Regions from separate parts of the Homo sapiens genome. Here regions 1 and 2 are each linked to region 3. Evidence: fine-mapped expression QTL. A gene starts in region 3. Each other region holds a variant in brackets. All regions are shown on one strand. Distances are from middle to middle. Region 1 has its middle 11 kb from the start of ADAMTSL4. Region 2 has its middle 9.1 kb from the start of PSMB4. Region 3 holds the start of ECM1 (extracellular matrix protein 1).

Evidence for each region.
Region 1: its variant is fine-mapped to the expression of ECM1 in fibroblasts (GTEx, PIP above 0.99).
Region 2: its variant is fine-mapped to the expression of ECM1 in atrial appendage (GTEx, PIP 0.95).

Annotation. Positions count from the first base shown.
Region 1 is chr1:150,537,009-150,539,766 of GRCh38, forward strand. No RefSeq gene overlaps it. Among named protein-coding and RNA genes, the nearest start is that of ADAMTSL4, 11 kb to the right of the region's middle. The variant C/T (reference allele first, on the strand shown) is at 1,176.
Region 2 is chr1:151,389,133-151,391,890 of GRCh38, forward strand. No RefSeq gene overlaps it. Among named protein-coding and RNA genes, the nearest start is that of PSMB4, 9.1 kb to the right of the region's middle. The variant C/T (reference allele first, on the strand shown) is at 984.
Region 3 is chr1:150,506,906-150,509,660 of GRCh38, forward strand. ECM1 (extracellular matrix protein 1) reads left to right here and starts at 1,204. Exons shown (of 10, transcript NM_004425.4): 1 at 1,204-1,374; 2 at 2,626-2,676. The coding sequence starts at 1,305. It overlaps TARS2 (threonyl-tRNA synthetase 2, mitochondrial), which reads left to right. Exons shown (of 18, transcript NM_025150.5): 18 at 11-697. The coding sequence ends at 159.

The DNA of each region.
Region 1 (2,758 bases), 30 kb after region 3:
GGACGTGTGTTGCCTCCCTACGTCTCTCCCTGAGATGTGAGCCTGGCTACATCAAGGCCAGAGCAATGAGAGGCAGTGGCCCTTGCCCCAGCTTTTCCCCAATGAGGAAGCACCATCATCACCAACACCATCTTGCCACGATAGCACTGGAGAGCCTGCAGGTGAAGGTGGGGATCCCCTAAATTCACAATTAAGTTCCTTTACCCCAGGGAAATGGGCACTGGAAACAGAAACAGGCTGTTATTGAGAAATCAATTAACATATGGTCCCTGCATACTTCTGTTTGAGGGCCCCAATTAGCTCATACCTGGTTCACAGGCAAACTTTCCAACAAACGGGGCAGATCTCATACTGGGTGTGTATAAGAGCCCCTGTGGAGGCTGGGCACAGTGACTCACAACTGTAATCCCAGCACTTTGGGAGGCCAAGGCGGGAGGATCGCTTGAGCCCAGGAGATCCAGGCTGCAGTGAGCTGAGGTCATGCCACCGCACTCCAGCCTGGGTGACAGACACCCTGTCCCAAAAAATAAAGAAGAACCCCTGTGGAGCTCATGAACAGGACCACCCAGAGGAGGGGACCAGGCACCTTTATTTTCATAACCTCCCAGGCAATTGTTAGGCACACTAAAGTGAGAGACTCTTTGGGGAGGATAGAGCTGCCCAGAGGGTTTGGGCTGGGAGAGCGGTGGGGCAGGGGCCCTCCCAAGAGGCAACAGGCTCCTCAGAGTGAGACTGAGCTGTCTCTCCACAGAGGGCAGGGGAGGGAGGGTGGCCCTGGGCAGAGGGGCTGAAGCTGGAGAGGCAGTGGAGGCCGGAGGGCACAGGCTTTGCGGCTGAGCAAGGGGCCAGGGCCAGATCCTGAAGCTGACGGGACAGGGGGCGCTGTGAGCAGGGACGGGAGGCCTTTCTGAGGCAGGAAAATCACTTGAACCCAGGAGGCGGAGGTTGCAGTGAGCTGAGATCATGCCACCACACTCCAGCCTGGGCAACAGAGCGAGACTCCATCTCAAAAAAAAAAAAACAAAACAAAAAGCAGATACACACCTTCCCGTCCACCCTTTGTCCACTGAGATGAGCTGGGCCTGTGGTGGGAGGGGTGAGCACCTCCTGCCTCAACTTGCATTTCCTTCCCAGCAGGCCCGGGCTCTCCTGCCTCTGACTTCAAGTCCTTGGTA[C/T]GTATGAAATTCCTGCCTCTCCTCTGGCCGCCCTGCCTGCCTCCCTGGCTGCAGTTACAGTTTTGTCCCTTGTTCCTACCCTTTTATGTCTGCCTTTCTCAGGCCTTCAGCCCAATGTGTCAAGATTAATTTGATACCAAATTGGCTTTCTCTGGAAATTCAAGGAAAACTTCTAGGCACAAGAACAAGATTCCTTTGGGGAAAATGCTCATGGCCCCTTCCTCAAGGCAGTCCTGGGGTTGGATCCTTGACCCGACCCAGGCCGGGATAGCACCCTGGAGGGGGAGGCCCTGTCTGGAGGGAAACAGCTCGCTCAGGGTCTTGCACCCGCCCGCCCCACCTCCAACCCTGTGCCCTGCTCTTGACAGAGAGAGACAGGCCCTCCTCAAAGTATGACTAGGGCCCTTCTCACCCCCAGAGCTCACCTCTCTGTAAGGCTCTGCTCTGCTGGAAAAAAATTCTTCATTTACTTTTGGACTGGGGCGACAGATTGCAATTTGGGGCCATCATGGTTGGATGTTTATGTTCTCGGAGGAGCCTCTTTGGGGAAGGAAACTGGGTTTCTCTCACCTTCCTTATTTGAGACAAAATGTACTATTTCTTGCTCTTAATTCAGCATCTACAATTGTCCTGGGAATTGGGTGCAGTGCCATGGGGTCAGGACAGTAGTGTGATTCCAGACTCCAGAACAAAACAATAGGATGCTCTGTTTTCTCAAAATGCCTTGAGTCCTCAGGCCTGGCCCCCCAACCACTAGGCAGCGCCTATCCTTCCTCTGTGGTCTCACCCCTCTTCCCAGATCATTTGCCCTCACAACCACCTCACATTCTGTCCAGAACCCCCAAGCACAAGGAGCCTGCCAAGCTGGGAAGTCATCACAGAACTCAGTTCTACTGGCATATCTGCCACCAGAATTCGCAGTAAAGAGGACAGGTTCTGGTTGGGTGCATGGCTCATGCCTGTAATCCCAACACTTTGGGAGGCCAAGGTGAGAGGATCATTTGAGCCCAGTTCAAGACCAGCCTGCACAACATAGTAAGACTCCGTCTCTACAAAAATTTTTTTTAATTAGCCGGACGTGGTTGTGCACACCTTATAGTCCCAGCTACTCAGAAAGCTGAGGCAGAAGGATTGCATGAGCCCCAGAGTTTGAGGCTGCAGTGAGCTATGATCACACCACTGCACTCCAGCCTGGGCAACAGAGTGAGATCCTGTCTCAAAAAAAAAAAAAAAAATGAGAAAGAAGAAAGAAAGAAAGGGCCAGGCATGATGGCTCATGCCTGTAATCCCAACACTTTGGGAGGCTGAGGTGGGTGGATCACTTGAGGTCAGGAGTTCAAGACTAGCCTGACCAAAATGGTGAAACCCCGTCTCTACTAAAACTACAAAAATTAGCTGGATGTGGTGGCAGGCTCCTGTAATCCCAGCTACTACGAGGCAGGAGAATGGCTTGAACCTGGGAGGTGGAGGTTGCAGTGAGCTGAGACTGCACCACTGCACTCCAGCCTGGGCGACAGAGCAAGGCTCCATCAAGAAAGAAGGAAAGAAGAAAGAGAGAGAGAGAAAGAAAAGAAAAGAAAGAG
Region 2 (2,758 bases), 880 kb after region 3:
CAGGCATGAGCCACCACGCCCAGCCTTATTATTATTATTATTATTATTATTATTATTATTATTATTTTATTTTATTTTATTTTTTGAGACAAAGTCTCGCTGGGTAGCCCAGGCTGGAGTGCAGTGGTGCAATCTCGGCTCACTGCAACCTCCACCTTCTGGGTTCAAACGATTCTCCTGCCTCAGGCTCCCAAGTAGCTGGGACTACAGGCGCCCGCCACCACGCCTGGCTAATTTTTTTATTTTTTTATTTTTAGTAGAGACGGGGTTTCACTATGTTGGCCAGGGTGGTCTTGAACTCCTGACATCGTGATCTGTCCGCCTCAGCCTCCCAAAGTGCTGGGATTACAGGCGTGAGCCACCGCGCTCGGCCGTACCTGTCCTTCTTGGGAAGGCTTTCCAGGTATTTGAAGGGACTTAGGTGTTGTCATCTAAGCTGTCTCTGCATTAGGCGGCACCCCAAGCTCAGTAATGCTGTGGTCCCTGCAGCCTCATAGAGTACCACCTTGGTGGTCCTGAATAAGAGCCAAAATAATTCTCTGGATTACCAGGTAGAAATTCCTATTCTCTTCTTGTATTTTCTTCCAAACAAACAGAGTCTCTCTCAAAGTCTCAAAGCCATTTGTAGTGGCATAAGGATCTTGCCTGTGAATAGCCACTGCTCTCCAGCTTGGGCAACATAGTGAGAACTCATCTGTCAAAAAAAAATTTTATAGTAATGCTGAAATCTAAAATCGTATTATAACCTCTCTCAACCCACCATTTCCCTTTCCAGGGACCAAGTTACTCCCTTCCTCCCCTTTCCCCAGGAAAGCCTACTTCCTGCTTTAATTCCATTATAATTGGCAGATTTCATTTATTTTTATTTATTTATTTTGAGACGGAGTCTCGCTCTGTCGCCCAGGCTGGAGTGCAGTGGCGTGATCTCGGCTCACTGCAAGCTCCGCCTCCCGTGTTCTCGCCATTCTCCTGCCCCAGCCTCC[C/T]GAGTAGCTGGGATTACAGGCGCCCGCCACCACGCCGACTAATTTTTTGTATTTTTAGTAGAGACGGGGTTTCACCGTGTTAGCCAGGATGGTCTCGATCTCCTGACCTCGTGATCCGCCCGCCTTGGCCTCCCAAAGTGCCGGGATTACAAGCATGAGCCACCACGCCCGGCCGCTTTCATTTATTTTTTATTGCTGGAAAATGTTTCAGAAGTTCCTTACTTTTTTCCCAGAGTGTCATTATAAGTAAGACTATATAAAACTCATTTTCAACTGCCACTATGACTCAATTTTACACACATGCGCGCGCATCCCCCACCCTCGCCTGCCCACATTCTTAGTGTTGTTTTGTGTGTTTAAATTAGCGCAGATGGTACCATATCATATATGTCATTCTGTGGTTTATCTGGTTCACTCAACAATGTGTTTGATATGTTAGGTTCTTTCCTTTAAGCTACCTTGTAGTATTCTTTTGTAATAATATACTGCATTTTATCTACTCCCCCTTGATGAGCATTTAGACTGTTTCTATTTTTTTGCTATTACGAACAATGCTCTGATGAACATTCTTGAATGTTTCCTAACGTGTACATGTGAGTGTCTCTATGTTATAGGTTTATTGGGTAATTTAGCATGTGTAATTTTCAGTTTTATTAGGTGCTATCAAGTTTTTTTTTTTTTTTTTTTTTGAGACAGAGTTTCACTCTTGTTCCCCAGGCCGGAGTGCAATGGCACAATCTTGGCTCACCGCAACCTCCACCTCCCGGGTTCAAGTGATTCTCCTGCCTCAGCCTCCTAAGTAGCTGGGATTACAGGCACCCGCCATCATACCCGGCTAATTTTTGTATTTTTAGTACAGACGAGATTTCATCATGTTGGCCAGGCTGGTTTCGAACTCATGACCTCAGGTGATCCACCCGCCTTGGCCTCCCAAAGTGCTGAGATTATAGGCATGAGCCACTGCACAAAGCCTTAAACATTGCCTCAAACCTCAGTGACCTTTGCCTAGAGGTGTAAACCTTGACTCTAATCTACCCCGACTAAAGGACTATGACTCTGGAGCATAATCTTGGCAGGAAGCATGTTAGAACTGCCCTTCTCATTGCCAGTCTCTGATTTTATTTGTTTGATTTAGCACAGATTAGGGGAAAATCTGAATATCCATAATCAGACAGGTTCACTGGTCTGAGAAGGGTGTGGAGGTTGAGCACAAAATTTCCTCTCCCTATTCCAGAACTTGGGAGTTACACAGTTCAGTGAACCCTTGAAGGTAGAACATCAGAGGAACAGAGGGTACAGAACTGAATGTGTAAACTGTTGATCTTCTGGGCATTCCTGGTTGTGAGCTTTCCCAGTATGAGAGGTGCTCAGAACGGGGTGGGCCAGGCCTAGTGGTTCAGGGGAATAACGTGTTCTGAATGTGTGTTTATTCTTTTCAACTTTATTATTTTTATTTATTTATTTATTTGTTTATTTGTTTTGAGATGGAGTCTCACTCTGTTGCCAGGCTGGAGTGCAGTGGCGTGATCTCTGCCCACTGCAACCTCCACCTCCCTGGTTCCAGCGATTCTCCTGCCTCAGCCTCCCGAGTTGCTGGGATTACAAGCGCCCACCACCATGCCCAGCTAATTTTTCTATTTTTAATAGAGATGGGTTTTCACCATATTGGCCAGGATGGTCTCGATCTCTTGACCTCATGATCTGCCCGCCTCGGCCTCCCAAAGTGCTGGAATTACAGGTGTTAGTCACCGTGCCTGGCCTTATTTTTATTCCTT
Region 3 (2,755 bases):
CTACCTGCAGTGGTTGGCCAGAAAGAGCAAAGTAAGAGAACAGTGAACATTCGGACTCGAGATAATCGTCGCCTTGGGGAGTGGGACTTGCCTGAGGCTGTGCAGCGACTGGTGGAGCTACAGAACACGAGGGTCCCAAATGCCGAAGAAATTTTCTGAGCCTTTGTACATAGATGAGGCAAAAACCTGCGAGTGCCATCAGCCTCCCTCACATGGGAGACCCCAACCCAGCTGACAATGTGGAGCCCCCAGAACTTCAGAACTGTGTGGAGGCACATGTCTGCTCTCCTGAAAAGAGACTTGGTTTGGGGACCCCACAAAAGGAGGGAAGCTGTAGCTGTTTGGATGTGAGGAGAATGAAACTACAAAAAAAAATAAATTGGGCCAGGCGCAGTGGCTCATGCCTGTAATCCCAGCACTCTGGGAGGCTGAGGCGGACGGATCATGAGGTCAGGAGATCAAGACCACCCTGGCTAACACGGTGAAACCCTGTCTCTACTAAAAATACAAAAAATTAGCCGGGCATGGTGGCACACGCCTGTAATCCCAGCTACTCAGGAGGCTGAGGCAGGAGAATCGCTTGAACCCGGGAGGTAGAGGTTGCAGTGAGCTGAGATTGCGCCACTGCACCCCCCTAGGCGACAGAGCGAGACTCTGTCTCTAAATAAATAAATAAATAAATAAATACAAACTGGAAGCTGCTGGTCATATGTCTTCATCTCTGACTCTGGAGAGGTGGGATAAAAGGATGTTCCACTTTGTCTCCCTCTTTTTTGTCCCAGAGAGTTAGGGAAATTGAAAAGGGACAGTCCAGACCTCACACTGGTAGGGGAGATCCCTTGGATAGGTTTCCTGCTCCCCGCTGTAAACTCCTTTGTGCCCTGTTTCCCCAACCCCAGTTCATGAGTTGGCAGATCCCCTCTCCACAGAAGGCAGCCTGTAGATGGAGAAACTGAGGCACAAACTAGGGGCTCAAACACCTCTTGCTCCTGGATTCTCTGAATCAGTTTCTCTTGAAGGTCATAAGAATGTTCTCCTCTAATCAGTCCCATTCTTCTCAATCCTCTGAGGAGGCTTCAGGGTGACTTTGGGAGGAGTGGCTTCCAGAGGAGGAGCAGCTGGGACTGAGTCATGGCAGGAAGCTGAGGAGGGCGGGAGATCACACCAGACAATTATAAAAGAAGAGCTGGTCCTGAAGCTCACAACCGTAACAGCCACCAGACAAGCTTCAGTGGCCGGCCCTTCACATCCAGACTTGCCTGAGAGGACCCACCTCTGAGTGTCCAGTGGTCAGTTGCCCCAGGATGGGGACCACAGCCAGAGCAGCCTTGGTCTTGACCTATTTGGCTGTTGCTTCTGCTGCCTCTGAGGGAGGTGAGTTGGGGGATCAGCACTTAGGAGGGGGTCTGGGCTTGCATGGCAGGGGTCTGGGTCCAGGCATCCCAGACGGCTCATCACTAGCAGAGTGATTCTCCGTTTGGCTTTCCTTTTCTGAGCAGGCCCAAAGTGGGCCTAGGCCAGTGGAGCCTTTAACCAAGGAGGCAGAGAGCAGGGGCACAGAAGGAGAGGGGTTCCTAGAAACTGCTGCCAAGAAACACAGAATCCCAGTCAAATAGACAACTGAGTGGGGGGTGGGTTCACAGAGTGAGGGTCTCCTGCTGATGAGGATGTAGGGAGGTGGCTGGTGGGAGAGGCAAGGGAGGGAAAAGGGGCCCCCAGGCTGCTCAAAACCGGATTGCTGGCCCAGCAAGCCTCGACTGACTCCCTGTCTGATTAGAGGAGTTGAGGGGTGTCCATCCACAGACCCACCCTCCATCCAGCACAAACACATTCTTTATCTGCTTTGATGCCTGAACAAAACAGGAACCCCTCAATGCTATGGGTGGAAACTAAGAAAAAAAGGAAAAGAAAAGGAAAAAAACCACCCAGGGCACTCCTGCAGGAAGCTGCTGAGGATGTCAGCAAATCTGTCCACTTCTCTGTGAAGCCCCATGCCATCATTCTTCCCAGCTCCTGGTCTTTTGTGTCTGCAGATCACCTACAAGTGACCCTTCCCTGTGCCTGTCCCAGTCCCCCAGGCCCTAAATTGAGACCTAAACTAAGGCGGAGCTGAGACTGGCTGAAGGGGAAGCACTCAACCTTCAGGAAGCCTCCTTAACCAAAGGCCTAAAGATGTTTCAAGGGCCTGGAGTAGGAGGGTGGGTGGAGGAGGTGGATTGGGTAGGCTCCAACCAGCTCAAGGTCCAGACTTTTTCCTCTGAAAGCTAGAGACGCATCCCAGCAGAGACTGGGGAGGACAACCCACAGCCCTGAGGGAAAGACTGGCAGAGGAAATGAGGGCCTCCCTCCCCAATCCCGTATGCCATACTCCCTTTAGGCCCAACCTCTGAGCCAGTAGAGGTGGAGCTATCAGACCGCCACAGGCTTTCTCAGAACCCAGCTGGTCATGTCTAGGTGTGTTGGGGCTGGGAGAGGATTAGGGGACACGGGGCAGGTGAATACAGAGGGGCATCTCGTGTCTTGCTTGTCTGTCCTACACTCTTGATCTCCACAGCCTCCCCATCCCTTGCTGAAGTCCAGGGAAGGCCCTCCCAGTGGCCCCTGACTTGCCCTTCTTCCCTCCAGGCTTCACGGCTACAGGACAGAGGCAGCTGAGGCCAGAGCACTTTCAAGAAGGTAAGAGTTTGGGGGAGCAGCATGGGATTGGGACTCCAGGAGGCACTGTGGGCTCTGATGTCTCCCCTCTTGCTTCTAG